3 separate regions of the Homo sapiens genome follow, and regions 2 and 3 are each linked to region 1. The links come from fine-mapping of genetic effects on gene expression. A gene starts in region 1. Each other region holds a variant in brackets. All regions are shown on one strand. Distances are from middle to middle.

Evidence for each region. PIP is the estimated chance that this variant, and not a neighbour inherited with it, causes the effect. A credible set is the group of variants that fine-mapping cannot tell apart.
Region 2: its variant is the best candidate, but not a certain one, in a credible set for the expression of ASAP3 in whole blood (TOPMed, PIP 0.90).
Region 3: its variant is the best candidate, but not a certain one, in a credible set for the expression of ASAP3 in whole blood (INTERVAL, PIP 0.86).

What each region holds. Positions count from the first base shown.
Region 1 is chr1:23,479,407-23,489,629 of GRCh38, forward strand. It overlaps ASAP3 (ArfGAP with SH3 domain, ankyrin repeat and PH domain 3), which reads right to left and starts at 4,773. Exons shown (of 25, transcript NM_017707.4): 1 at 4,599-4,773. The coding sequence starts at 4,727. RefSeq lists silencers at 4,608-5,057, 5,178-5,287, 5,298-5,347 and an enhancer at 5,538-5,637.
Region 2 is chr1:23,433,651-23,443,873 of GRCh38, forward strand. It overlaps ASAP3 (ArfGAP with SH3 domain, ankyrin repeat and PH domain 3), which reads right to left. Exons shown (of 25, transcript NM_017707.4): 6 at 8,851-8,962; 7 at 8,536-8,621; 8 at 8,005-8,080; 9 at 7,737-7,823; 10 at 7,452-7,561; 11 at 5,511-5,580; 12 at 5,097-5,184; 13 at 3,774-3,822; 14 at 3,480-3,670; 15 at 3,261-3,394; 16 at 2,910-3,004; 17 at 2,201-2,378; 18 at 883-968; 19 at 604-719; 1 more. Among named protein-coding and RNA genes, the nearest start is that of TCEA3, 14 kb to the left of the region's middle. The variant T/A (reference allele first, on the strand shown) is at 4,820.
Region 3 is chr1:23,456,743-23,466,965 of GRCh38, forward strand. All of the region lies in intron 1 of ASAP3 (ArfGAP with SH3 domain, ankyrin repeat and PH domain 3), which reads right to left. Among named protein-coding and RNA genes, the nearest start is that of ASAP3, 22 kb to the right of the region's middle. The variant C/G (reference allele first, on the strand shown) is at 6,463.

The sequences.
Region 1 (10,223 bases):
TAATTCTTTAAAGCCAATTTCCCTCAATATTCTTCTCTGACGATCAAAAAACAAACAAACAAATTTCCCTCCAACAGAAACAAGCTTGACAGGGTTTATGTTTCTTGCAAACAATCTCTAAGATTACACAATTTTTACACTAAAATACATTTTACAAAGCAAACTGTAAAATTCACAAGAATATTAAAAATTAAGAAGGAAATCCTTTCTAAAACAAGATTCAAAAAAGCAAAAGTCACAAAGGAAAAGAAAAATGTAACTCCAAAACAATTTAAACTGTGCATTATAAGACCTGATACCAATTTAGGTAAACATTCCCCCAGCCACTCCCATTCCCCCACTGATAATATATTTTCCATGAGGAGATACATTGGGAAGCATGTACATTTCCATAGCAATTACCTCTGGGGAGAATACAGGGATTGAGATAGTTGTTCATAGGCCTTTTCTGTTATGTTTTAAATTACTTATTACAAATTATGCCCTGGCCGAGCATAGTGGCTCACGCCTGTAATCCTAACATTTTTGGAGGCTGAGGTGGGCAGATCACTTGAGCCCAGGAGTTCAAGACCAGCCGGGCAACATAGTGAAACCCCAACCCTACAAAAAATACAAAAATTAAGCCGGCGCCAGTAATCCTAGCTACTCAGGAGGCTGAGGTGGGAAAATCACCTGAGCCCAGGAGGTTGAGGCTGTGGTGAGCCATGATTGTGCCACTGTACTCTAGCCTGGGTGACAGAGTGAGACCCTGTCTCAAAAAATAAAATAATAATAAATTATGCCACTTGTCCAATTAAAACTTTCTTTTAAAATTTCAAAAATATATACAAAACAAGCCTTTGAAGATCTCCTATTTGTGGCAGACTGCTTCATCTGAGACCTACTGGAGGGGGTGTGTCCACTAGCAGTTTGAGGCACACAATATAGTATGAATTCTTAGCTCTGGTCAAAATGGCTTACTTGGTTCCCAATATGCTCTCTTCCCACCAGTCTCTGAATTCACTCCCTTGTCCTCTCCGATAAATGGGGTTCATCTATCCTTCCACCTGGAAGTGTCACCTCCTCCAGGAACTTCTCCCTCATTGCACCAGTCCTTACTGCTCTCTCCCTCTCCTGCTCCACTTGCCTCTTATGGCATTGACTGTACCTTTCTCTGGGGACTCAGGACAAACTCCTGGGGTTCTTACTGATCTCCCTGTAACAGGCTACTTCTCCCTAGTCAGTCAGCAAATCAAAGTAGCATCTTTATGTCCTTAGTGTCCTTTATGTCCATAGAGATGGCACAGAGAGCTGGACAGAGCCCAGGCAGAGCACAGCAGAGTCAGAGAGACCCACTGTGTGACACAGGGCAGCTGCCTCCACTGCCCTAGGCCCGGTTTCACCTGTTGTTGTGAATATCAATGAGATGATGGGCATAAAGGGGCCCAAGACAGGAAGAGGCTGGTTGACGTAATGACTATCTTAATATACTCCCTCACATTTGCATGGTGCTTCATAATTGAACACAAAAAACTTTAACAACCCAGTAAGGTAAGCAGGGAGTGATTAAGAGATCCATTTTAAGGATAAAATAACAAGGTTCAGAGAAGTTACGTAGGGAGGACAGACAGATGGACTTTAAAAGGAAAGAGAACAGGACCGGGGGTAGAACACGTGGGTAGAAATGCTAACTTTCCCACTATCCAGCCGCAGGAGCTTGGCCAAGTCTCTTGGCCTCTCTGGACATCAGTTACTCCATCTTATCTGAGAGAGTTTCTAGCTGGTCTCTATCTTAAAAGGGTCCCTCAGCCCTGACATTCTAGTTTCCTGTGATCTGCCCAGGGTCCTTCCCAGCAGGACTGTACAAAAGGGCTGCGAGTCCCAGGACAGGGTCCCTAGTTACTCCCAGGAAACCAGTCAGAACTGGAAGACTTGACTTAAGAATCAGTTGCATTTTGATTCAGTCAAATAGAGCTACAAGCCTGGGGGTGGGTTAGTCAAGCCCAGAACTGGGGGAAAAAATTGCAGCATCAAACTATATGTAAACACAATATAATCGCAAAATATAAATGCAAATGCAAAACCAAACAGGAAACCTCAGGGAAGTCTAATCCAAAGTTCAGACTCTAACTTTTTGGGCCCTGAGATGCTGAAGAGAAAAGCTGTGTTTGGGTGCCGCAAGCCTTTCTGTTGTAACAATGAACCTCTACGTGCACCAAACCAAAAATCTGAAGGCAAAGGAGGATGGGTTTTGTCTTGCCTGAACTGGGGCAAAGCTGAGCCCTGAACAGAGCCTGCTGTGGCCTCCAGACCCATTCTAAGGGTCCCTCCCCCAACACACAGTGCTTACACTTACACAGCCAGGCAAGGCCAGATGTATGGGCATAAATGGGCATTTCTGTCCATGGATAAGGTTCATATTGGAGCCCCTTCTCCTGCTCTAAGATTCTAATGAACAACCTGGGGAGGAGGATGAACCATGAAATCCCTAAGAATGTGGATGGCACTGAGCTATTCTGGGTCATGAAATGTGAGGCTATGAAGACAAATCTCAGGAAGCTCTCCAAAGGATGGGCTGGACAGCAGTGTTTCCCTGTGAGCCCCACAGTAAAATATAACCCACATCCACAGGCAGTGGACTCTGCCCAAGGAAGGAAGCCAAATCTGACCGGCTGCTTCTTATTTTAATAAAACATGTACCCCTACTATGTGCAAAGTAGTAGGCTAGGCTCCGTGAGACAAATGAGACAAGGTGAGGCTCTGTGAGACAAATGAAGACAAAAGAGACCCAATCACTGTCTAAAGAGATCTGCCGATTAATCTGACGATAATCATTCCATTTATCAAGAGGCATGGGCCAGTGCAGCGGCTCACACCTATAATCCTAGTACTTTGAGAGGCCAAGGCGGATAGACTGCCTGAGCTCAGGAGTTCAAGAACAGCCTGACCAACATGGTGAAACCCTGTCTCTACTAAAAATACAAATATTAGCCGGGTGTGGTGGAGCATGCCTGTAATTCCAGCTGCTTGGGAGGCTGAGGAATGAGAATTGCTTGAACCCGGGAGGCAGAGATTGCAGTCAGCTGAGATCGCACCACTGTACTCCAGCCTGGGAGACAGAGCAAGACTCTGTCTCCAAAAAAAAGATGCATGCTTTATATGCATTGTCTCATGTGAGGTACACATTATTACCCCCATTCCACAGATGACAGGACAGGTCACATGCCCACGTTCACCCAAATGGCAAACTGCAGAGCCAGCGTTTGAAAAAAGGTCTGCCTTGGCCGGCGCGGTGGCTCACGCCTGTAATCCCAGCACTTTGGGAGGCCGAGACGGGCGGATCATGAGGTCAGGAGATCGAGACCATCCTGGCTAACACGGTGAAACCCCGTCTCTACTAAAAATACAAAAAAAAAATTAGCCAGGCGTAGTGGCGGGAGCCTGTAGTCCCAGCTACTCGGGAGGCTGAGGCAGGAGAATGGTGTGAACCTGGGAGGCGGAGTTTGCATTGAGCCAAGATCGCGTCACTGCACTCCAGCCTGGGCGACACAGCGAGACTCCGTCTCAAAAAAAAAAAAGGAAAGAAAAAAGGTCTGCCTTCCCCAAAGTCGATGCTCCTTCCACAATCCTCTATCACCCTTACAAAGTGATACAAACAGACTCCGAGATGGAGGGTCACCCTGACAAGAGAGAAGAGGACAGATTTCCTGACACTGGCGCAGGGTGTTATGAACTACTGAGCTTTGTATCTGCCACGCAGTGGGTGCCTAGTACACTTAAGGTGAAGGGTGGAAGGCTAGAGCCGTTGCTGAGGTCCAAAATGCCACCCAAATTGAGGGCATCCTTTGGATGGGGAGCTGCAAAAACACATTATTCTCCGTTGGACCAAGGCCACGGGGTGTCTGTCCTAGAATATTCTTTGCAGAGGAGCTGCGGAAAGCTGCAGCAGGTTCAGAGAAGAGGAATGGAAGGAACTCCGAAGAGCATGGGAATGGGGTGGGGCAGCCTGCAAGACCGAAAGAAAAGGCCTGGGACGCTTTGCTGGGAAAGACAAAGAGGAGAGGGGAGGGGAGAGGAGACGATAAACTTGCCAACAGCCCGGCCAAGGTGAACCCCGGCTCCTGGCGCCTTCCCATCCGCATTCATTCCACAAACGCGGGCCAAATCTCCGAACCAGCCGCAAGCGGGAGGGGGCCTCTCTGCAGCCGGGGGGAAGAAAGTTCAGGACTGAGGCGGGAAGCCTGCCTCTCAGAAGGGGAGTGACTCGGGGGGCACACTTGTGGGGCTCCGAAGATGAAAACGCAAACTGAGGCTGGAAGGCGCTAGGCAAACACATATGTGATGAGGCGGTCACGCGGGGCACTTGGGGTACGTCCCCCGACCTGTGGAGTTTGTCATCGAAGAGACCTCGAGGCCCCCCAAAACGGTCCCTCGGGCCTTCCCCCGCCTCGACGGTGAGGACGCAGCTGTTGGAGATGCGCTCGGTCCTCCCAGACCTAGGGAGGGGGCAGGTTTCGGGGCGCGGTGAAGGGCCATCGCAGCTCGGGTGCGACACGCCTGTGGAGGTCAAGGCCAGGCCCGGCGCCGACCCCCGACCCCTCCCGCCTCGGCCCCCTCACCTCCTCCCGCGCCAGCGCCGCCCCTCGGTACCGGGGCATCTTGGCGGCGAAGGCGGCGGCCCCAGCCGGGGAGCTGAGGTCCTCCGCGGTGACGGCCAGGAACTCGGCGACGCTGAACTGCTCCGGCATGGCGGGCGCGAGCGTGGAGCTGCCGGAGCGGGGCGCGGGGGGCACTGAGCTGCTCCGCGCTGAGCCGGCCTCACCGCCGGCCGGGGGCGCCGTCCCGGCCTCCACACGCCCCGCCCCTCCGCACGCCCCGCCCCCGACCCTCCAGCCGCTCTCCGCTCCTCAGCTGGGACGGCCCCGCCCCCGGCTCCTCGCCTTCCTCCACCGCCAAGGTCCAGGCTCCGGCCCCGGTCCCGGCCCCGCACCGCGTCAGGCCGCTTCCCCGGCCCCTCGCCGGCCCCCTAGGCCACGCCCCCAGCCCCTCACCGCCTCAGACCCCGCCCCCTGGCGCGATGCCCCACCCCTGGCCTCAGTAGAAACTCCTCCGCCTTCCCCCATCCCTGCCCCTTCAGGGCTCTGTCCCGTTTCATCCCGCTCTGGGTCTTCCAAATCCTCCTCCCTTGCACGGCCCAGGCTGTTCCATCTCCGCGTCGAGTCTTAGAGCCCCCTCCCTCTTCCTCCCTCCTCTGCTGATTCGTTCCGAGTTCCCCATGACCTCGCCCCTTCTGCCCTACCACCCCCCCGCCACCCTTCCCTCCTCTCTCCCCAGTCCCGCCCAATCTCCTTGCCTCGCTCCGCCCCGAATCGCCCCACCCCTCCTTTGCTGCGTACGCCCAGCTCTCAGCCTCAGCTTTGCAGGCATCCGGAGACTCCCTCCTGATAACCCCCGCCGCCCCGGGGATGTGTGGATCGGGGCCCCTGGCTAGCTGTGTGACTTGGGGAAAATTACTTCTCTTCTGGAACCTCAGTTTCCTTATCTGTACAATGGGAAGCCTGATGCCCGCTTGATTGTGATGTTGCGAAGAACCGAACACGTGCGTGTACTAGTTCCCTCTTACCCGACCATAGATCGCACCCACGCCTTTACTCTTCCTGCTCCTGCCTTTCACCCCTTAATCTGGCTCACCATCCTTTGGGGCGGATGAGGGATGGGGTTCAGGATAGAAATCCACTTAGGTTTAGTTCTGAAGCCTGAGGTCCTCTGGGGAAAAGTTCTCCAAGTAAAAAGCTAGGAAAGCACCGCAGCAAGGAACATTGGTTTTGGAGTCAGAGGAACCTAGATTCCAATCTTGGTTACTTTGGATAAATTGCTTGCTTCTCTAAGCCTGCATTTCCCCCTCTTAAAATGGCCTCATGGTATTTTACCCCACAGGGCGGCGATTGAGAGAATCTTTTCTTTTCTCGCACAGAAAAGAAAAGAAAAGAAAAAATCCGGAAAGATATGCACTAAAATGTTGCACCAGCAACATTTTATGCACTAGCTGAAGACAGATATGCACTAGCTGAAGACATTATGAGTAACTTTCTTTTCTTTTGGTGAATCTGTATATCCTAACTTTTATACAATGACCATATACTACTGTGTAATAGAATTAAAAGTTGACGGGAGCGATGGCTCATGCCTGTAATCTTAGCACTTTGGGAAGCCGAGGTGAGCGGATTGTTCAGGAGTTCAAGGCCAACCTGAGCAACATGGCGAAACCTTGTCTCTACAAAATATACAAAAATTAGCCCGGCGTGGTGGCTCTTGCCTGTAGTCCCAGCTACTTGGTGGGCTGAGGCAGGAAAATGGCTTAAACCTGGGAGGTCAAGTTTGCAGTGAGCTGAGATCCTGCCATTGCACTCCAGCCTGGGTGACAAAGTGAGACCCTGTCTCAAAAAAAAAAAAAAAGAAAAAGAAAAAGAAAAGAAAGAAAAAAGAATTAAAAGTTGAAAAAAATGTGTACCATCTGATAGAGACGACAACTATTCCAAGAGTTCTTTCAAGGTCAACTTCTCCTGTTGAAACCAAATAGGCACTTTTCTTGTTATTTATTTTTAGAGACAAGGTCTCACTCTGTCGCCCAGGCTGAAGTGCAGTGCAATGATCATAGCTCAAGGCAGCCTCAAACTCCTGAGCTTAGGCACTTTTCTTGCTTGACTTTTAGGAGCATCTGACAATGTTAACCACTCCCTTCTCCTTGAAACACCCTTGCCCCTGAATCCTAGGAGAACTATTTTCTTTGGTGGCCCTCTCCCTCTGGCTGTTCCAAGAGCCCTTTCTGAGATGCACTTCCTCCGCAGGGATCTTAAATGCTGGAGTTGTTGGGAGCTCTCTGCTAAATCCTCTGCATGTCTCACTCTATCAGCCTTCCTGGATTTCTTCATCCAATCCCAACGGTAATGTTGATGTCTTCTGTACTAGTTTCCTGTTGCTACTATAACAAATCACCAATAACTTCCCTCAGCCTCCCGAGTAGCTGGGATTACAGGCACGTGCCACCACACCCAGCTAATTTTTGTATTTTTTAGTAGAGACGGGGTTTCGCCGTGTTGGCCAGGCTGGTCTTGAACTTCTGACCTCAGGTGATCCGCCCACCTCGGCCTCCCAGAGTGCTGGGATTACAGGCATGAGCCACTGCGCCTGGCCACATTTATTCTTTTACATGTCTGGAGGTCACAAGTCTGCAATAACTTTCACTGGGCTAAAATCAAGGTATCAGTGGGGCTGTACTTCCTCTGGATGCTATAAGGGAGCATCTGTTTTCTTGCTTTTGCAGCTTCGAGAGCTGTAGTTTTTGCATTCTTTGGCTTATGGCACCTTCCACCTTCAAGGGCAGCAGCATCTTCAAGCATCTTACTTGCCTTCTTCCCTGTGATCAAATTTCTCCCAGCCTCCCCACCCCTCTTCTTTTTGTTTTTTTTTTGTTTTTTTTGAGACGGAGTTTCACTCTTGTTGCCCAGGCTGAAGTGCAATGGTGCGATCTCAGCTCACCACAACCTCCGCCTCCCGGGTTCCAGCGATTCTCCTGCCTCAGCCTCCAGAGTAGCTGGGATTACAGGCATGCGCCACTATGCCCGGCTAATTTTGTATGTTTAGTAGAGATGGGGTTTCTCAATGTTGGTCCTCGAACTCCTGACCTTAGGAGATCCACCCGCGTCGGCCTCCGAAAGTTCTGGGATTACAGGCATGAGCCACGGCGCCCGGCCCCCTCTTTTTTTTTTTTTTTTTTTTTTTTTTTGAGGCAGGGTCTCATTCTGTCACTCCAAGCAGTGGAGTGATCACAGCTCCCTGAAGTCTCAACCTCCTGGGCTTTTGCGATCCTCCCACCTCAGCCTCCCAAGTAGCTGGGACTGCAGGTGCATGACACCACGCCCAGCTAGTTCAACCTCTCTCTTTTTTTTTTTTTTTTTTTTGAGACGTGATGCCTCTCTGTCGCCCAGGCTGGAGTGCAGTGGTGTGATCTCAGCTCACTGCAACCTCTGCTTCACAGGTTCAAGGGATTTTTGTGCCTCAGCCTCCTGAGTAGCTAGAATTACAGGCCCATGCCACCACACCCAGCTAATTTTTTATTTTTATTTTTTATTTACTTATATTTTTATTTTTTGTATTTTTAGTACAGACAGGGTTTCATCATGTTGGCCAGACTGGTCTCCAACTCCTGACCTCAAGTGGTCCACCCACCTGGACCTCTCAAAGTGCTCAGCCTCCCTCTTATAAGGACATTTGTGATTACATTTAGGGCCTATCCAGATAATCCAGGATAATCTCCCCATCTCAAAATCCTTAATTTAATCACACCTGCAAAATCTCTTTTGCTATATAAGTGCCATTTACAGGTTCCATGGATTAGGACCTGGATATCTTTGGGAGCCATTACTGAGCCAATCACATCTTCCAAGGCTGTATTTCCAGCCTGGACTCTTCTCTAGTTCAAGATCTATGTATCCAGCCACCTATGAGACAGTTTCATTTCACTGGCTCACAGACAGACACCTTAAACTCTACAGGTCCAAAACTGAACTCACCATCTCGTACGCCCACTCCTTGCACCAGATTGTTTTCTGTCCCTGTCTTGATGGAAGGCATTACCATGCACCCCCTCGGAGTCATCCTCTCCTCCCTTCTTCTACCAACCTCCCCTCAAACAAGTCTTGTCACTAGTCTCACCAGTGAGACCACCTTCTCCATCTGCAGGCCAACCCCAGTCCAGACCACTGCCACCTCTCACTTCCTCGCTGGTCTCCCTGCCCCTAATCTTGCATATCTGTTCTGTTGCTCCTCTACTTAGAACTCTTCAGTGCCCCCCGCATTGCTCTCTGAATAAAAGCCAAACTTGTTTTCATGGATGTCTAGCCCTGCATGGTCTTGCTGCTCCTGCCATTCACAGGCTGATCTCTTGCCTCTCTGTCCCCACTGTGATTGAGCCCCTTCACTGTTCTCCCCTCCGTCTGTAATGCTCTCCCACGTCCTTTCAGCAGGCCAACTTAGATGTCAATTCCTCCAAGAACCCTTCCTTGATGTACTTACTCTGGACTCCTACGGGATCCAGTATCTCCCACCACAGCAATTACCACTGTGGACTGTAATAATCAGTTTTCTGGTCTGGGGCTCTGGCCCACCTATTTATTTATTTATTTATTTACTACGTACTAGTCACAGGGCCAAGGGCTATACAAGCAATAGCTCACTCAATACCCACTCAATACTCACAGCAACCCTATGAGGTAGGTGACGTTATGCTTCCCATCTCACTGAAATTAAAGCTTAGAGAGATTAATTTGTATAAAGTCAGAATGAACAAGTAATATAACCAGGATTCCAACCCAGGTCTGCAAGACTTTAAAGCCTTCTTTGTTTTGTTTTATTGTTATTATTTTGAGACAGGGTCTCACTTTGTCACCCGGGCTGGAGTGCAGTGGCATGATCATGGCTCACTATAGTCTAAACCTCCTGGGCTCAAGGGATCCTCCCATCTCATCCTCCCAAGTACCTGGGACCACAGATGTGTGCCACCACACTGGGCTAACTTTTAATTTTTATTTATTTATTTATTTATTTTTGAGATGGAGTCTTGCTCTGTCACCCAGGCTGGAGTGCAGTGGCTCAATCTCGGCTCACTGCAAGCTCCGCCTCCCGGGTTCACAGCATTCTCCTGCCTCAGCCTCCCAAGTTGCTGGGACTACAGGTGCCCACCACCATGCCCAGCTAATTTTTTGTATTTTTAGTAGAGATGGGGTTTCACCCTGTTAGCCAGGATGGTCTCGATCTCCCTCCCGATCTCGTGATCCGCCCGCCTTGGCCTCCCAAAGTGCTGGGATTACAGGCGTGAGCCACCGCGCCTGCCACTTTTAATTTTTATATGGAGGTCGGGGGGCAGGGGTCTCACTTTGCCCAGGCTGGTCTCGAACTCTTGAGCTCAAGTGATCCTCCCTCCTCAGCCTCCCAAAGTGCTGGAATTATAGGTCTAAGCCACTGAGCCTGGCCATTCTCTCTCTCTCTCTTTTTAAGTAAAATAACTTTTTGTTTTTACTTAAATATGTGAACAATTCAATTACAGTGAAATTTTTTCTGAACCTCCAGGTTTAGGGTAATCTTTAAGTAATCTATAGGTATTTGATATTATGTCATGCCCGACTATGTTTATATTGGATCAAAATAGAGAAGGAGAGAAAACTGTAAGGATTCCAAGTGTTTGA
Region 2 (10,223 bases), 46 kb before region 1:
TTCTTCCTGGCTATGTCCAGAGCTGTCTCGCCTGCTTCATTTACTGTGAGCGGGGAAAGTCAGGGTTCATGGTCATAGTCAAAGAAACATTACAGCTTAGAGATTAAGACGGGCCTCTGGAATCAGAATGTATGGGTTTGAATCCTGGCTCTGCCATTTTCTGGCTATGTGACCATAGGCAAGTTATATAACCTTTTGGGACAAAATTGTTTATGAAATGAGTATAATACTTGGAACTACCTGATGAAGTGGTTGTGAGGATTCAATTAATTAACATACAAAAAGCACTTGTCCCATTGCCAGGCATATGTTAAACAATACATATTAGCTATTACAATCATTATCATTCAGATCTAGCTAATATTTATTTGCCTAAGTACTCCCAGAAATATTATTTTCTTTTTTCTTTAGCAGTCCTGCTAGGTCAGTGGTATTATTCCCATTTTACAGATGAGGAAGCTGAAATTCAAGAGCTGAATGACAAACCCCTAAGATCACAGAGGTGGTCAGAAGCAAGCCAGGATTAGAGCCCGAGACCATCGGAAGTCCACATAAGGGGTAGTCAGGAATAGGAGTCTGACGGAGGAGGTATTCAAGCCCCACCTGTGCCAACCAAAGCTCTCCCCTTCAGCAGCAGCTTGAGGCAGTCGGGCTGGTTGTAGAGTGCTGCGTAGTGCAGAGCCGTGTTCCCGTCAGCAGCCTTGGCATCCAGGTGACCACTGGGGAGAGGAGGGTTCAGGGAGAAAGGAAGGGGAACAGATCAATGAGGGGATCAAAGTCAGGGGAAAAAGTGGGAGGGGAAAGGAGGGAAGAGAATGGGAGAAGAGGAAGGAAAGGAGAGGGAGTGTGAGGAGCCAGACAGACAGGCAGGGAGGCTCTCACCCGTTCTGGATGATGAAATCCACCAGAGGCAGGGAAGCCTGGTTGGCGACTTTGACAGCCAAATGCAAGACGAGTTCTTCAGGTGCCTGAAAACACATCCACACCTCTGAGATTCCCCCCCCAGTGCACCTGCCTCCAACCCAGTATTTCCCTCTTGAACTCTTGCTAACCCCTTATCCCCCCATAGGAAGCTGCCAGAACCCTGGAGAGATGAGACTGCAAGGGCAGAGCCTCATGTCTGGGAGGAAGGTGAAGGGCCATTCTCCCATTGTTCCCATTCACGGCTCTTCCTCCTCTGCCCCCAACAAGTGTTTCCCAAACTTCTTTCTCAGCTCTCGGCTCCTCTCCCTGATCGCACTTCCCCACCAAGACCTCAGCAACCTCACATTTTCAACTATCACACATGTGCAGGCTGTTCCAAATTCTTACCTCACCTAAGTGCTGCACTGCCCATTGGATAGCCCACCAAGATATCAGACAGACAGTTCAAAGATACCCGTTTTTAGTTTTTCTGAGACAGGGTCTCGCTTTGTCACCCAAGCTGGAGAGCAGTGGCGCAATCACAGCTCTCTGTAGCCTCAACCTCCTGGGCTCAAGCCACCCTCCCACCTCAGCCTTCTGAGTAGCTGGGACCACAGGTGTGTGCCACCATACCCAGCTAATTTTAGTTGTTGTTGTAGAGATGGGGGTTTCCTTATTTTGCCCAAGCTGATTCTGAACTCCTGGGCTCAAGTGATCCTTTCACTTTGGCCTCCCAAAGTGTTGGGATTACAGGCGTGAGCCACCACACCCAGCCAACATCCAATTTTTGATGTCGAATCAGTCAGCAACTCCTGTTGATTTACTTTTTCAAATGTCTCTGATATCCTTTCTCCATGCTCATGTGTTTGTTCTTGGAATAGCCAAAGCAATGTGGCCTTCCTGGCTCTAAACTGACATGCCCTTATATTTCAGGGCTATTTAGGTGAAAGAAAAAGATATTAACGTTTATTGCATGCCCATTGTACACTAAGCCCTTTATATACATGACTTCTCACTTCATCACCGTGGGTGCTATTATTAACCCCTTTTATAGATGAGGAAATGAGACTCAGAGAAGTAACCTGCCCTAGATCACACAGCTAGGAAAAAACAGAGCCAGGATTCCCACCCAGGTCTGCCTGACTGAAGCTGTGCTCTTTCCCACTTACCACTCTGATGGGTGAGATCTGAGCAGATGTCAGAGGTGGGGTGGAGGGGAGTAACAGCTGGTCCTGGAGAAGAACTGGGGAATATGTTAGACAGGTGGGTTATAAGTGGCCCTTGGAGGGGTTCTCACCTGTGCATCAGGCCCTGGCAGCGGCTGTCCAAAGTCCTGCCCATTGGCAAAGGCCTCCAGTACCGACAGGAGGTCCCTGTTGCAAATGGCTGTCCAGAGTCGCTGAGGCTCAGGTGTGCACCGGCGTGCAAACCTATGCTCCACATACTTGGCCATAATGTAGTCCCTGCGGGTGCCCCTACCAAAAACAACCACAGGATCTCAGAGCATGGACCGTGTCTGCCCAGCTGATCCCTGGGGCCCTCCCACAGGAGATACAGCTCTCTTTTTCTCCAGAACCATGTCCTGAAGACGTCTAGATCTGAGGCTCCCCTCTCCCCAGGCTTTTTTTTTAGACAGTCTCACTCTATTGCCCAGGAGGGAGTGCAGTGGCGCAATCTCGTTTCACTACAACCTCTGCTTCCAGGGTTCAAGCAATTCTAGTGCCTCAACCTCCTGAGTAGCTGGAATTACAGGCGTGTGCCACCACGCCCAGCTAATTCTTGTATTTTGAGTACAGGCGGGGTTTTGCCATCTTAGCCGGGCTGGTCTCAAATTCCTGACCTCAAGTGATCCGCCCGCCTTGGCCTCCCAAAGTGCTGGGATTACAGGCGTGAGCCACTGCGCCCAGCCTCCCCAGACTTCTGATCCAAGACTTTTCTACGACCCTGGACACTGCGGAGGCAGAATCCCCTAGGCAGGGTGCCCCTCTCTCTGAGAATCCCCTTACATGTCACTCTCAGCTGAGGGTTTAGGGCCGCCGTGTGAGGGTAGCTGGGCCTCCATGACCTCATTGAAGCTCGTGTTTCCCATGTTCAAGGCCAGCTGGAGTCGTAGGAAAATAGACGTGGGGCGGAGTAAGACCGGGCGGTTAAGCCTGCATAGGGTGGAGCTCCAAGCCCCCAGAGTCCCGCCCCTCGGCCGCCCTCCCGGTTCAGGCCCCGCCCCTGACCACCCGCTACCTGGCTTGTCCCAGCCCACCTCGGCCAGGTCCCACCCACAACCTGCAAGCCCCGCCCCCGGATGAAACTACACCCCTAACTCCGCTTCTGGCCCCTTCCAGGCCCCGCCCCGCCCTCACCAACAACTCGGAGGGGCCCAGCAGGTCCAAGGTGAGTGACTGCATGCGCGAAAAGCGCACGCCCAGTTCGCGGTGGACGCCCGAGCACTGGATGCAGGTGAGCACGCCCAGGTTGGTGCTGAGCCACGTGGGGTCTGCAGAGGAAAGCAGCTGGAGCCTGGAGGTGCAGCCCCTCCCCTCCACTTAAGCCTCCCTCCTGCCCCGGCCCCGGGGACCGACCTGCAGCCCCGCAGTCGCAGCACTGGCTATTCCCAGGCCTGCTCTTCACCTCCGCGATGAGCAGCTTTGTGAGGTCGTGCGGCTCCCCATCATGGCCGGCGGACCCCCAGGACCCCGGGCCAGCGCTGGGCTCCCCGAGGAAGGCGCTGCTCAGGGCTTCGTCCTTGCTGTTCTGCAACACTGACACCCACCTGCGGAGATTGAACGGGGTGGGATGGGGATGTCAAGTGGGAAGAGATAGGGCCGCCGGCCCCCACCCACAAGGCTGGCCGGGCTGGCCGAGGGGGCACTCACGCCTCACACTCGTGCTCGTCCTCTGCCTGAAAGTGGTACGTCCGGTTGTCTGTCGGGAGAGAAGGGGGCTTCTGACCCACAGAAATGCTGCTGGCCTTCCCGGAGCCCAGGGAGCCCCCACCAAAGCCGCTGGGGCCACATGGAGATGTGTCCCTGACAAGTCGGACTCTCAAGCTAGGAGTGGGAAGGGAGTGGAATGACAGTGGCCAGCACCAGGGGCAGTTTCTCAGAACTGGCCTCCGAAGTAGGATCCCAACAAAGCTCCCTCTGCGTGAAGCCCTGGTTCCAGGCTCAGACGAGGTCTCAAAGGGCTTGGAACCCCAGAGAACCCAGCTCTGAGGCAGGGCATCCTCTGAACCAACTGTCACCACCCCACTGGGCCCTTCCTGGTCTCCTCCTGGGCGACCAGGCCTCCTGTCTGGTCTCCCTGCTTCCCATTTCCCCTTTCCCCTAGCCTGTACCAGCTCCCAACTGTTGTGCCCAAGGCTCTGCTCTAATTACACCACTGCCCTGCCCCAAGATCTCCCATGGCTCTCTATTGCCAGGAAATAAGGTCCAAACTTTTAAGAGGGATTTCCAGGCCTCATCTCTCACTCTGCTACATGAACCCTCCACTCTGGCCAAACCGGCCAGACCCACTCTCCTGCTTCCATGCCTTTCATCATGCTAATCCTGTCTCCTCAAAAGCCCCCACCCCACAAACTCTTCATTCTACATGTCCTTCAAGGCTAAACTCAAATACTGTCTCCTCCAGGAGCCTTTCCTGATTCCCCACAGCAGTGCAGGCCTTCCTGCTCCCTAATCTTCTATGGGGCTATATCTGCACCCATCTTCTGGACAGCCCCCTCATCTTACAGTCCTGGGTACCCACCCCACACCCCTGCCAGAGAGTTTCCTGAGGACAAGATCTAGGTCTTTCTCAGCCTGTGTCTGCTCTCACACAAAGCCTGCACCAAAGGCTCTGAAGAACGAAAAGTAGAAAATGTAAAGAAACAATAATTTCATCTCCTTCAAGTCTGGGTATTTGGGAAAAAAAGGTAAAATTT[T/A]AAAAAAAGAAATAATTTCAAAACCCAGATGACCCAAATCCACTCAAATATGCTCTGTATAAATAGCCACATTTATTATGTAAAGTGGGTGCATTTTGACATTTAATGTGATGTGGGTATCCTAGACCTAAGGATTCTTATGTCTGCAGTAGCAGCAATTCGACACCATGTGTGGAACTGGACACAGACCCCTCACTGAAGCCCCCCGGGAGCTGACAGGTGTCTTAGAGAAGCCCTGAGCAGCTGTGGGTGGGGGAGAGGCACAGGGACCACTCACGGGTCACCAGGTCGAAGCACTTTTTCTCCTCAGGGTTTGGCCTCACTTGGCACGTCAGCAGGGTCAGCTTCACCGGGGGCCGGTTTATCTGTGGGAATTTAGGGGCGGAGGATGTATGCATTACCTCTGGCCCTCCACATTCTTTAGGCCTCCATTTCCCACTCTGTTAAATGGGCATAATCATCCTGTTCCATTTGTGTTTCTCCTCACCCAGCAGCACCTCAAGGATGTGAAGTGTAGACTAAGACTAGATTGGGGCCTTCAGGTCCCATCTGTCCTCCCAAACGGGTCTCCAGCTCCCTGGACCTAGGTTTGGGGGCCAGTCTTAGAGGGAGGGCTTGACATTATTTGCTCAGAACACCAGAAGAAGAGGGTCCATCGTGCCCTGAGACTCCCACCACCTCTAGGCCTCACCGTGCTGTGTGAGATGGTCAGGCAGCCATACTTGACTCCACACTTCCTTTTCTGCCAGACTCTTCGAATTCTAAAGCCCAGAGGGATAGAAGGACAGTGACCCAAGGCTCACACCTAGTTCGCAGGTGTCAGAGAACAGAAATTTGCCCCCACCTGTATGATCTCTAGCCACATCCCTTTACCTCTTTCTTCTCCTAACCCTACACCCCCACCCCTGACCCCTGACTCTCTGGGGCTCCCTTCTGATGGAGGAGACACAGTTCTGCTCTTAGGAAGATGCCAGTCTGATGGAGAAACACAGCCTCACTCCCTGGGAATCCTTATTCTAAGGGGATGATGTGACTTTGGCCCTCTGAGAGCTCCCAGTCTGATGGGGGAGACATAGCTTATATCATTAGGGAGCTCCTAGTCTGAGAGGCACAGGCTCTTGACAACAACAAATAAATTGTGGTTCAACTAAGCAAGATCAATATTAATATCCCCAAAATAAAATTAGCAAGTCCATGATCCAAAACTCCGTAACACTTCTCCTGTAACAGGTAAATATTCATTGGTTTCTTCTTCAAAGTTATTCTTCTCCGATTAAACTGATTGGTAGGTAGAAACATGAATATATCCCACAAGGGCCTTTGCATTTCACAGCAGTTTTGTTTTTTTGTTTTGTTTTGTTTTGAGACAGGATCTTTCTCTGTCACCCAGGCTGGAATACAGTGGCACGATCTCGGCTCATTGCAATCCCTGCCTCCCAGGTTCAAGCAATTCTCATGCCTCAGCCTCCCAAGCAGCTGGGACTACAGGCTCACGCCACCATACCCAGCTAATTTTTTGTATTTTTAGTAGAGATGGGGTTTCACTATGTTGGCTGGGCTGGTCTTGAACTCCTGGCCTCAAGTGATCTGCCTGCCTTGGCCTCCCAAAGTGCTGGGATTACAGGTGTGAGCCACTGCACCTGGCCCACAGACTGATTTTTTTTTTTTTTTTTACACTAGGAAGCAAGGCACAGCCAATACTTTCATTTCTAGGCATATTCAGTATATTGCAGAGATTAATTAGGGCATAGGCTGGGCGCAGTGGCTCACGCCTGTAATCCCAGCACTTTGGGAGGCTGAGGCTGGCAGATCACAAGGTCAGAAGATTGAGACCATCCTGGCTAACACGGTGAAACCCCGTCTCTACTAAAAATACAAAAAATTAGCTGGGCGTAGTGGCGGGCACCTGTAGTCCCAGCTACTCGGGAGGCTGAGGCAGGAGAATCGCTTGAACCCAGGAGGCGGAGGTTGCAGTGAGCTGAGATCACGTCACTGCACTCCAGCCTGGGTGACGGAGGGAGACTCCATCTCAAAAAAAAAAAAAAAAAAAAAAAAAAAAAAGAATGAGGGCATAGTAAGTGTTGCAATAAGTGTTAGCTACTGCCAGCCGGGCGCGGTGGCTCATGCCTGTAATCCCAGCACTTTGGGAGGCTGAGGCGGGCGGATCACAAGGTCAGGAGATCGAGACCATCCTGGCTAACATAGTGAAACCCCGTCTCTACTAAAAATACAAAAAAATTAGCCGAGTGTGGTGGCGAGTGCCTGTAGTCCCAGCTACTCGGGAGGCTGAGGCAGGAGAATGACATGACCCGGAAGGCGGAGCTTACAGTGAGCCGAGATCATGGCACTGCACTCCAGCCTGGGCGACAGAGTGAGACTCTATCTCAAAAAAAAAAAAAAAAAAAAGTGTTAGCTACTGCTATTCTTCTTCTTTAACTTAAAATAACCAGTCACCTTTAGCAGAAGTTCACATGCCCAGGTGTCCTGGACAACCCAGGAATTGAGGATTTTACATTGCAACCCTCGGTGTCTACACAAATGATTAGAACAGTTCCTTTGGGCAGCTTCCCCAACCCTGTCATTTACTTGCAGTGTGACATTGGGCAAATTATGTAAGCTCTGAATCACTTACCCGTCACTTTTCTTGTATAGAAAGCCCACTTTCTCCGTCCCAAACTGCTTGTTGCCTTGGTGCTGGTGGATGCTATAGCCACATCCTGAGTTCTTCCGGCTCAGGTGTTCCTGTCCCTCGGACATGCAAAGGAGACCTCAGGGCATCTCAGTGGGAAGAGCCCCATTCTGCGGGGGCTCACTCAGGGAGACTTCTCCAGGGGACCCTGTGGGTCTTCCTTCTCTCCCTCCCTCCACGGTGGGCCTTGGGGGAGGGCATTCCTTTTGGGATAGTTCAGGGGCTGACCTCTCTGCTCTCAAGCTGCAGTGTCCCTCGGAGGGAGTCCCGGAGCTGGGTCAGCTTCTGTAGCTCGTCCTCCTGGGCCTGATGGAGCTATGGGACAGAGGATGGGATCCCATCACCAGCCAACAAATATGTCAGGCACAGAGCCCAGACCCAGAAGAGCAGAGCAGTAGCCTCACTCTGTGGGCAGAAGCCAGCTCTTCCACACCCACAGATTTTCCTGGAAGGACAGGGGGCTTGATCACGTGCCCAAGGGTGAGACCCAACTTACTGCATGTACTGAGGCCGCCAGCTTCTCGATGAAGGGGAACAGGCTCTGGGCAGCCTTCCAGCCATCTTGGAAAAAGCTAAGAGGTGTCAGAGGCCAAACAAGGGTCCAGATAAAGATGGAAATGAGAGATGAAGCCAGAAGTGTGGGAGAAGCTGCCGTAAGGATCACAGGGCACCTCAGGGAATTGTAGTCTGACGGTCAAGAACAGACACTCCATAGACAAGAGTCTCTCTTGACTAGGTTCAAATCCCACTTACTAGCTATGTAATCTTGGAAAATAAGCCTCAGTTTTCTCATCTATAAAATGGGGATAATAGAGTACCTGCTCCCAGAAGTGTTGGGGAATTGAGCGAATTGATGTTTGTAAAGTACTCATGCCTGACACCCGGTGAGCACTCAATGAGGAACTATGAAAGTTCTGCCAAAAAGATGCAGGCCTCCAAAGAGACTCTCAGGTCTATCACACCTTGAGAGGGGCCTTGTTCTGTGACACTGGAAGGGTTAGTGGCAGGGACGCGGGAAGATACCTACTTGTGCTGGGCGTGGAAGAACTTGATGAGGCTCTGAAGGAAGTCAGGACCTTGCTTCATCTGGCTCTCCCCGGCTTTGAGCAGATACTAGGAGGAGGGCAGGGCAAGATACGTGATGTGAGCTGAAGCAGAATCCTGGGAACGAGGGGCTGCAGTCCCCATCCCAGGCTAATCCTCCTGGCTGCGACTGGGCCTTGGTGACATCCCACAGGGCCATGTGGCCAGGACCTGAGCTGAGGCTGTGACTGGTCCCCTGGAGAGGCAGACAGGAAGACACATCCCACGCCCCCCCTCCCTCATCCAGAGCACCCCTTACCTCACACATGTGCAGCTGGAAGATGCGCCGCTCTCTCTGCATGTCCTGGGCCACCTCCCCAGGGATCCCTCCTGTCACCCTGGCCCGATCGCGCTCCTTCTCCAGCTTGGCCCTAGACCCCAAGGAAAGAGAAGCCTGAACAAGTCTCACCAGCCCCTATATCCTCTTCTGCCAAGGATGCATGAGCAAAGGGGCCACATGGTGCAGGAGGCCCTCCTGTGCCAGCTGTGTGGTGGGGCTGGGTACAATGAACAAGACAGTTTAGGGAATCCACAGAGTGGTGGGGGAGAAAGACATGAATCAAATCACAGCCACGCAGAGAACTATGGGAGAGAAAATGGGGATCCAACCTCGTTGGGGCTAGTTGGGAAGTGATGTCTGAGCTGGGATCTGAAGCCTGAGAAGCTTGGAGGAAGCTACTGCTGGGCAAGAGGGATGGACCATGTGATGGCCCCAAGGCAGGAGCGAGTGCCAAGATGGAGAGGGCTGGTGCCAGCTAAGGTAAGGAGGTGCCAGACCATGCAGGGTCTAATTCACACCATGTTAATATATTCTTGGTCTTTATCCCAAGAGTAATGGGAAGGATTTGAAGGTGTTTATTCAGGGGGATGAAGGACTCAAACAAGGGCCAAGTGAGATTTGGGGCAAACAGTTCTGATTTTCCTGGAAAGGATTTAAGAACACAGGTGCCTTCAATCTTTTTTATTTGTATTAATTTTATAGATTCAGGGGGTACAAGTGCAGTTTTGTTTCGTGGATATACTGTGCAGTGGTGAAGCCTGGGCTTTTAGAGTACCCATCACCCGAATAGTGTACATGGTACCCAATAGGTAATTTTTCATCTCTCACCTATCCTCCCACCTTTTGAAGTCTCCAATGTCTACTATTCTGCTCTGTCTGTCCACATGTACCCATTGCTTACCCCCCTACTTATAAGGGAGAAAGAACATGCAGTGTTTGACTTTCTGTTTCTGAGTTATTTCAAAGTGCTTTCATTCTTCTGAGCCCATGGAGCTTCATACTTAAAGCTCAGAAAACCTTTGTTCTTTTATTTTCTTTTTCTTTCTTTTTCTTTTTTTTAGTGCAGTGGTGCGATCTCAGCTCACTGCAACCTCCACCTCCCAGGTTCAAGCCATTCTCATGCCTCAGCCTCCTGAGTAGCTGGGATTACAGGTGCCCACCTCCATGCCCAGCTAATCTTTTTTTTTTTTTTTCAGACGGAGTCTCGCTCTGTTGCCCAGGCTGGAGTGCAGTGGTACGATCTTGGCTCACTGCAACGGCATGATCTTGGCTCACTGCAACCTCGGCCTCCTGGGTTCAAGCGATTCTCCTGCCTCAGCCTCCCGAGTAGGTGGGAGTACAGGTGGGTGTCA
Region 3 (10,223 bases), 23 kb before region 1:
AATAAACAGTTATGTCAGGACAAGGAGGAAGAGGCCAGGATGCTATGGGTGAGCAGAGAGGGGTTGGAGGCATTCAGTTACCTGAGTCTGGGGAGATGGCAGAGGGTGGCGGGAGCACACTCCATCACCACTGGGGAGAACTGGAGAGACAACACCAGATAACCCCAAAGCCCAGAGGCTGCAGAACAAACATCAGAATGTGGGAAAGGCCAGAGATGTGATGGCAAGAAGCAAGTCTCACATGCCCCAAGCAGGCTCAGCCTAGATGGGAAACACTCCCCCTTTCAGTGGGGCATGGAAGTTGACAACCTCATGAAATCCTTGCGAAATGCACAGTTAACTTGGAAAACACAGAATGTCGAGCTGGAAGGGGCCCACAGATGAGAAAACTGAAGCCAAGAGATGGGAGGCCCTTACCGAGAGACACATGGTGGGGAAGCCACAGAGCTGGACTTCCCGGGTGCAACAGAACAGTGTTCCATCCATGTACCACAGCCCCACCCTGACCCCAGCCCAGCTGTTCTTCCCAGTGACAAAAATAAAATGGGATCAGAGTCTGATTTCCAGAGTTACATGACAAGAGTTAGTAAACACATTGGAAATGGTACTGCCAAAGATTCAAAATGATACCCACAGGAGAACATGCATAGGGCAGAACTCAGAGGCAATGTGGAGTGTTCTCAGAGGCCGGTGGCATGTGGGAAGCCTCTGGAGGAAGGGGGGTCTAGTTACGAAGCTCAGCTCCACTACTCGGGGGCTATGTGACCTTGAACAAGTTGCCTATTTTTTTTGAGACCAAGTTTTGCTCTTGTTGCTCAGGCTGGAGTGCAGTTGCACAATCTTGGCTCACTGCAACCTCTGCCTGCCAGGTTCAAGCAATTCTCCTGCCTCAGCCTTCTGACTAGCTGGGATTACAGGTGCCCACCACCTGGCTAATTTTTTGTATTTTTAGTAGAGACGGGGTTTCATTGTGTTGGCCAGGTTGGTCTCAAACTCCTGACCTCAAGTGATCCACCCGCTTCGGCCTCCCAAGGTGCTGCGATTACAGGCATGAGCCACCGTGCCCGGGCACAAGTTGCCTATTCTTTCTGAGCTTCCTGATTAGCCATGTGTAAAATGGGGAAATCGATGCCTACCTCTCAGGGTTGGTATGAGGGCTATATGTATGAGAGGATGCAAATACAGGATTTAGCTTGGTGCTAGGCATGGAGTATGTTCAAAATGAACAGCACCTGTGATCGTTATCATCAGCTGCTGCTGATGCTAGGAAGGTCTGCCAAGTTCCAGGTGCTTTTCCTACAGGGGCTAGAAATCTAACATTCTCCTCCTCGGGTGTGAACTTGAGACACTTTCATATTTGAGATCCGTGGAGGCCCATCCCAGGGCTGAAGAAAGAAAACAAAAGAATCAGGAAGATTAAGGAGACGGCATCATATTTGAGTTGGTTAAAACATGAGGCTGGGCATGGTGGCTCATGCCTATAATCCCAGCACTTTGGGAGGCAGAAACAGGAGGATCACTTGAGGCCAGGAGTTCAAGACCAGCCTAGGCAATATAGTGAGACCTTGTCTCTACCGAAAAGAAAAAATAAATAAATTAGCTGGGTGTGGTGGGGTGCACCTGTAATTCCAGCACTTGGGGAGGCCAAAGCAGGAGGATCACTTGAGCCAAGGAGTTCAAGACCAGCCTGGACAGCTTGGCGAAACCCCATCTCCATGTGGTGGCATGCACCTATAGTCCCAGCTACTTGGGAGGCTGAGGTGGGAGGATCACCTGAGCCTGGGGAGGTCAAAACTGCAGTGAGCCCTGATTGCGCCACTGCACTCCAGCATGGGTGACAGAGAGAGCCCTGTCTCAAAAAGCAAAGCAAACAAACAAAAAACAACCAAAATGTTTCTTACTAAAGAGACAAAGAGGTGGAGGGGAGAACGTTTCTTTCTAAACTGGCCAACAGAAAAAGAAAAAAAAAAAGAGGCAAGAACATGGCCACTTCTATGGTTCCCCAAAATCCAGATGGGGAAACAGAAGCATGTGTTTACCAAATCCCTTGATCCCCATCTTGAAACCTGGAAAGCTAAAAGGTGAGTAATTTAAGGAGCTATGATTTCGCTCTAAAAGACAATTCAGGTTAAAGATATGAACAACTGGGCCAGCACAGTGGCTCACGCCTGTAATCCTAGCACTCTGGGAGGCCAAGGCAGTGGATCACCTGAGGTCAGGAGTTCAAGACCAGCCTGACCAACATGGCGAAACACTGTCTCTACTAAAAATACAAAAATTAGCTGGGCGTGGTGGTGCACACCTGTAATCCCAGCTACTCAGGAGGCTGAGGAAGGAGAATCTCTTGAACCCGAGAGGTGGAGGTTGCAGTGAGCTGAGATGGTACCACTGCACTCCAGCCTGCACAATGGGAGCGAGACTCCATCTCAAAAAAAAAAAAAAAAAAAAAAGATATGAACAATTTCCAAAAAAATTTCCAAAATCCCTAGAGGGCAGATCCATGTACCTAGCACACAGAAGGTGCCCAATAAATGTTTACCTAAATGAATGATGGTTTGCAAAGTCCTGGGACATGGACCTGAGAGGAGTATGTTCATGCTCTAGATACATTCTGAGGAGTCTTCCCATCCCATGACACCCATTTTCTGAAAACTGCCCTCCCTTCCTCTGGAGGTGGGCCCCTGCAGCCTTGTTTGTTCTAGCCAGAGTCGACAGACACCTGGTTCAAGCTAAACCAATCAGATTCTCTCTCCCACCTGACCCAAGCTGGACCAATCAGATTCTCTCTCCAAGGACTTTGGAATTGGGCTCTGGAAAGCTAGTTGACTGACTGAAATGCTAAAGCTGGGATGTCCTTCCTGCCACATGCAGAGAGAAAAGAACAGAGCAGATGTGTAGAAAGACATGAACAAGCCCCACACCGCCACAGCAAGGCAGAAGAGGAAGAGTGGTGCTGGTTTCTGGCAACTTTCCAGATGCTACCTCTTCAGAGGCAACCTCCACACATTATGTCTTTGGTGAAATTCCATGAAATACCCCTGAATCCACCCAACGAAGTTCCTTTAAGCAAGTTTGAGAAGATTTCCCTTCCCTGCAGTGTGGCAGAGATCACTGGGTGGCTCCCAGTGTCCATTCTCTCTTCTTCCTTCACAAGAAACCTGACTTTTCAGATGGCCACTTGGCGACCTAGAATAAAGACTACATTTCCTACCTTGCAGCTAACTGTGGTCATGGGACTAAGTCCTGGCCATGGAATATAATATTTTAATTGTTAACTTCCAAAAAGTATCTTACAAAGAAGGGAGATAACCCCCAAACTCATCAAGTTGTATACACTGACTATGTATAGCTTTTTACATGTCAATCCTACCTCAATAAAGTGGCTTTAAAAAATTGAAAAATAAAAAGGAAGGGAGGGACTACACACCTGTTAGAATGGCCAAAATCCAAAACACTGACAACACCAAATACTGGCAAAGGGAGGCCGGGCACGGTGGTTCACGCCTATAATCCCAGCACTTTGGGAGGCTGAGGCTGGTGGATCACTTGAGGCCAGGAGTTCAAGACCAGCCTGGCAAACATGGTGAAACCCTGTCTCTACTAAAAATACAAAAATTAGCCAGGCGTGGTGGCACACCGCTGTAGTCCCAGCTACTCGGGAGGCTAAGGCAGGAGAATCATTTGAACCTAGGAGGCGGAGGTTGCAGTGAGCTGAGACAGTGCCACTGCACTCCAGCCCAGGTGACAGAGTGAGACTCCATCTCAAAAAAAAAAAAAAAAAAAACCAAACAAAAACACACACACACACAAATAAATAAATAAATAACCCCAAAACACAAATACTGACAAAGATGTGGAGCAACAGAAACTCCCATTGTTGGTGGGAATGCAAAATGGTACAGCCACTTCGGAAGACAGTTTGACAGTTTCTTAACTAAACGTACTCTTGCCAAATGAGTCAGCAATCATACTCCTTCATATTTTCTCAATGAGTTGAAAACGTATACATACCTGCACACGGATGTTTACATCAGCTTTATTCATAATTACCAAAATTTGGAAACAACCAAGATGTCCTTCAGTAGGTGAATGGATAAAGAAATTGTCATGCATCCAGAGAGTGAAATATTATTCATCACTGAAAAGAAATGAGCTATCAAACCATGAAAAGATGCAGAGGAAAGTTACATGCACATCACTAAGTGAAAGAAGCCAATTTGAAAAGGCTACTACATGATTTCAACTATACGATATTCTGGAAAAGGCAAAACTATGGAGACAGTAAAAAGATCAGTGGTGGCCAGGGATGGGGGTAGTGAGGAGGAACAGGTGAAGCACAGAGGGTTTTTAGGGCAGGGAAACATTTCTGTATGATGCTATAATGGTGGATACATGGAATTATACACTTGTCCAATCCCACAGAATGTACAACACTAAGAGTGAACCCTAATGTAAACTATGGACTTTTGGTGATGATGTGTCAATGTATGGTCATTGAAACAAATGTACCACTCTGGTAAGAGCTGTTGACAGAGGGGGAGGCTGTGTGTATATGGTAACTCTATGTACTTCCTGCCCAATTTTGCTGTGAACCTAAAACTGCTCTAAAAAATAAAGTCGATTTTTTTTAATTTAGAAAAAAAGGGCCTGGGGTGGGGTGGCTCACGGCTGTAATCTCACACTTTGGGAAGCTGGGGCGGGAGGATTGCTTGAGCCTAGTTCGAGGCCAGCCTGGGCAACATAGTGAGAGTCTGTCTCTACAAAAAATTAAAAACCAGGCATGGGGCATGGGCCTATAATTCCAGCTACTCAGGAGGCTGAGGTGGGAGGACTGTTTGACCCCAGGGAGTTGAGGCTATAGTGAGCTGTGATCGTGCCACTGCACTCCAGCCTGGGCAACAGAGCAAGACCCTGTCTCAAACGCACCCCCCCACAAAAAAAAAAAACAAAAGAAAAAAGGGGAATGCAAGGGTACCCTCTGTCACCCCTTTCTTCTGGCTACAATGTGCTGGCGATGTCTAGAGCTCAGGCAGCAATCCTGGACCATGAAGTAGAAGCCATTTGTTATGGATGGCGGAGCAACAAGATATCAGCCTTGTCCCTAGTGATTAGGAAACTACCCTAGCAGCCCCAGTCTACTTATCTGTGGAATTCTTTAATATGAAAGAGAAATCTCTTATTTGAGCCACTGTTATACTGGGTATTCTGCCACTTGTGGCTGAAACTAGCTCTAACTGGTAAAGGGAGACAAGTCACCCGAATCACTCACAGACTGTTTTTCTTTTCTTTTTTTTTTTTTGAGATGGAGTCTCGCTTTGTAGCCCAGGCTGGAGTGCAGTGGCACAATCTCGGCTCACTGCAAGCTCTGCCTCCCGGGTTCACGCCATTCTCCTGACTCAGCCTCCCGAGTAGCTGGGACTATAGGCGCCCGCCACCACGCCCGGCTAATTTTTTGTATTTTTTAGTAGAGACGGGGTTTCACCGTGTTAGCCAGGATGGTCTCGATCTCCTGACCTCATGATCCGCCTGCCTCGGCCTCCCAAAGTGCTGGGATTACAGGCGTGAGCCACCGCGCCCGGCCACAAACTGTTTTTCGATGCCCTTGTCAGACATCTATCAGGAAACAGCTTCCCAGCCAGATACCATTCCCGTCCCTACTGCTCTTGGCAGCCAAGTTCACATGGCTGTTTATTCATTCAATTAGTTATTGAGTGCCCACTACACCCTGTGTAAAAAAGACACAATCTCAGCCGGGCACAGTGGCTCACACCTGTAATCCCAGCACTTTGGGAGGCTGAGGCTGGCAGATCACGAAGTCAAGATCGAGACCATCCTGGCTAACACGTCTCTACTAAAAATACAAAAAATTAGCCGGGCATGGTGGCATGTGCCTGTAGTCCCAGCTACTAGGGAGGCGGAGGCAGGAGAATCGCTTGAACCTGGGAGGCGGAGGCTGCAGTGAGCTGAGATCACGCCATTGCACCCCAGCCAGGAGGGCAGTGTGAGACTCCGTCTCAAAAAACAAACAAAAAAGACACAATCTCAGCTCTCAAGGACATCATCATTGAAGGGAAGAAAAAGCCATTATAAGCAGACACTTATCATGCAATGTGATGAGGGCTATGATGGAAGGTTCCTGGGAGTCCAGGGAAAACAGAGCCATGTCTGCTTTGAAGGAATGGGGAAGGCGTCCCTTAAGCTGTGTTGCTTAACTCTGGCCCCTGGACAGGCAGAAAAGAGACTAAAGAGACTACACTATGAGGTAGAGGGGAGGGAATGCTTGGTAAAAAATGGTAGGACTGCCAGGAAGGGAGGCGTGCTCTGGGAAGAATGGACAAGGACAGGAACATAGTTCCTCCATTCATTCATTCATTTCAACAAGCATTTCTTGGTGACTGTTTCAGCCAGGCATGGTGCCAGATGGTGGGGACACATAAGACATGGCCCCTTCCTTCAAGAGAA[C/G]CACAGACTTAAGAACATGCAAGTGCCCATAGGGAGCATGAAAAGGGAAAAGTTCTAATTACTCCTTTCTCAAGAAAATATCTGAAAATCATTTACACTGGTTGATAACACCTATCCTGTGGTATAATAGGGCTCAAAGATTTAAGCTAAAGAAATGCAGGTTTTTTTTTTTAATCCACTCATCCACACACTCATAAAAAAATTTAGTTTTAAGGAGACGATTCTGATAGTAGCCTGGGGAAAGGAAGGTATTTTGAGGAAAGGCAGAGGTTTCCAGAGTGCTATGATGAGTCAGTAACTAAGATTCTAGCCCCAGCATCTCCAAAATTATCTCCTTGGGTGATACTAGCCCAGCTAGTTTTCTAAACTTCCTCTCCTTTAAAATAGATTTTTATTTTTTTATTTTTTTATTTTTGAGATGGAATCTCGCCCTGTTGCCCAGCCTGGAGTGCAATGGCACAATCTCGGCTCACTGCAACCTCCGTCTCCCAGGTTCAAATGATTCTCCTGCCTCAGCCTCCCGAGTAGCTAGGATTACAGGTGCCCGCCACCATGCCTGGCTAATTTTTATCTTTAGTAGAGACGGGGTTTCACCATGTTGGCCAGGCTGGTCTCAAACTCCTGACCTCGTGATCCGCCTGCCTCGGCCTCCCAAAGTGCTGGGATTACAGGCAGAAAAATCCATTCTCTGCTTAACTCACAGAATTACTGTGAGGCTTAATGAGATCACAAACATGGCAAGGCTTGAGGCATTTGGAAAACATGAGTATGGTTCTTACTGTGGTTTGTTTTCTGCCTCTGTGTGAGATCAGCCCTCGTTTCCCATGAAACTGGATAGATGAAGGAAAAGCCAGGTGTGGCGGCTCCCTCCTATCATCCCAGCACTTTGGGAGGCCAAGGTGAGAGGATCGCTTGAGCCCAGGAGTTCAAGACCAGCCTCGGCAACAAAGTGAGACCCCCACCCCGATCTATACCAAAAAAAAAAAAAATTTTTTTTTTTGAGACACAGTCTCTCTCTGTTGCCCAGGTTGGAGTGCAGTGGTGTGATCTCGGCTCACTGCAACCTCCACTTCCCAGGTTCAATCGATTCTCCTGCCTCAGGCTCCTAAGTAGTTGGGACTACAGGTGCCCGCCACCATGCCCGGCTAATTTTTGTATTTTTAGTAGAGATGGGGTTTCGCCATGTTGGCCAAGCTGGTTTCAAACTCCTGACCTCAACTGATCCTCCTGTCTTGGCCTCCCAAAGTGCTGGGATTACAGGCATGAGGCACTGCACCCGACCATTACAAAAAATTTTTTAAAAAAGTTAGCCAAGTGCTGTGACACACACCTGTAGTCCCAGCTATTTGGGAGGCTGGGATGAGAGGAGCCCTTGAGCCCAGGAGTTCGAGGTTGCAGTAAGCTATAATCATGCCACTGCACTCCAGCCTGAGTGACAGAATGAGACACTGTCTTAAAAAAAAAAAAAAAAAAAAAAAAAAAAAAAAAAATCAGCTTCTGGGTTCAGGTGGGCCCATTTAATCCCTGATAGTCAGAGATTCTCAAGGTGGGGGCCCTCAACCAGCAGCAGGCATCATCCAGGAACTTGTTAGAAAAGCAAATTCTCCAGCTGAATCAGAAAATCTGGGGGTGAGGTCCAGCAATCTGTGGTTTAACAAGCCCTCCAGGTGATTCTAATGCATGCTAAAGTTTGGGAATTACTGTTCTAATTCTCTTCAGAGATGCAGTACATCATCATTGCTAAAAGTATGGGGCTGTCCCCAAACTACCTGGATTTGAATTCCAGCTCCACCAGGTACCTGATGTGATCTCTCAGTCCCTCAATTTCCCCATTCATAAAATGAAGATGATAATATTGCGTACCACATAAGGTTACTGGGGAGATTAAGTAAATTCTATAGGTAAAGTGCTTAGAATACTGTCCACTATTTGATAACTAAAAATGTTATCTACTTCAAAATTAAATTGAATTTGGTTTAGGAATTTCTCAACTTTCATTGAATTAATTAAACATATCTCCCCACACCCCCAACTCCATGTTGATCCTCGTCAGCAAGCTGTGGGGAAGCACAGGTGGAGAGGGACCACAGCAGACCTCTGCCGCCGGGCAGGGAGAGTGCAAGCAGCATGTCCCAAGTGCCTGCTCTGTGCAGCCTCATTACTTGTCACTATCCTGGCCACTCTTTGAGGAAGGCATTGCCATTCCCATTTTAAAGATGAAGCTGTCAGGAGGAGGAACATGTCCAAGTCACACAGTGATGAACAGTGGCAGAGCTGTAACTTTTTTTCTTTTTTTTCTTTCTTTTTTTTTGGGGGGGGGATAGACTCTCACTCTCGCCCAGGCTAGAGTGCAGACACACAATCTCAGCTCACTGCCACCTCTGCCTCCTGGGTTCAAGCGATCCTCCTGCCTCAGCCTCCTGAGTAGCTGGGTTTACAGGCGTGTGCCACCATGCCCAGCTAATTTTTGTATTTTTAGTAGAGACAGGGTTTCGCCATCTTGACCAGGCTGGTCTCGAACTCCCGACCTCAGATGATCTGCCCACCTCGGCCTCCCAAAGTGCTGGGATTACAGACATGAGCCACTGCACCTGGCCCAGAGTTACAATTTAAATCCAGGACTAGCCAAATCCAGGGCCAATGTTCTTTCCCCATCTCTAAGCTGCCCCACAAAGTTAGGGGGCACAGCTTATTTGATCTTGGGACTGGATCTGCCTCCAAACCTAAATCCCAATTCTACCACCTCTACCATATTCCCTCACCATCCCCTCAGGCTTAGGAAAGGGAGAAGGCAGGGCACAGAGGGAGATCTGTCCAAGGAAAACAAGGTTGACAGCAATGGTGAGGCCCCGAATACAAACACTGTAAAGGATGTCCTACTGAAAAGAAAACGGATTTGTTCAGGCTGGCCTCAGAGAGGATTCCCAGGACTGAGAGGTGGAAGTTAGGGAGGCAGAAACAGACTTCAGCTCAAACAGGGGACATTTCTAAGGAAGAACAGGCCACCCCTGAAGGCAGTGAGCTCCCTGTCACTTGAAGTATTCAAATACTTTAGGTGCTAGAGAGTGATTCAGACACTGGATTTTGGATTAGAATGGACAGCTATTTAGATTTCATTCAAAGCTAAGAGTCAATGGATCCATGCAAGAGCCTGGCAGGCACTGGGCAAAGGTGGCTGAAACACATCTTAGTGTAAGAGACACGTCTGAGCTTGGAAAGCCCACTGGAGTCCTTTGGGCAGCCTACCCTGGCTGGCCCTAAACAAGGCCTAAATTCCAGCTGCTGGCACTGCCCTTTGTGTCCCCTACCCTGATCCCAACATACACACACACCATGCTCTGGCTCTCTGGTTTGTGTTCTCTGCAGGCAAAAGACCACAGATGGCAGCACTAGGCCATGCCCAGCTGCCCTGCCTAGAAGGGCCTTCTGCATGCCCCCTTCTGGGTCAGGATTCATCAATAGGACCCATTCTTCATTCCCATGGTTTCTCAGAGCCAGCTGTGGTTACCAAGGCAACTCAAGCCAAGGGGGCAGAGCTGCTAGAGCTAAGGCCTTGGGAGATACAGATTACATTTCACCATTAGACATTCATTCCTTTGGACCATTATAATATAGTACATAGTTATCACTTCTGTGTCATCCCATGACCATTACAGCCATTATTATTATTATTATTATTTTGAGATGAAATCTCGCTCTGTAGCCCAGGCTGGAGTGCAGTGGTGTGATCTCAGTTCACCGCAACCTCCGCCTCCCAGGTT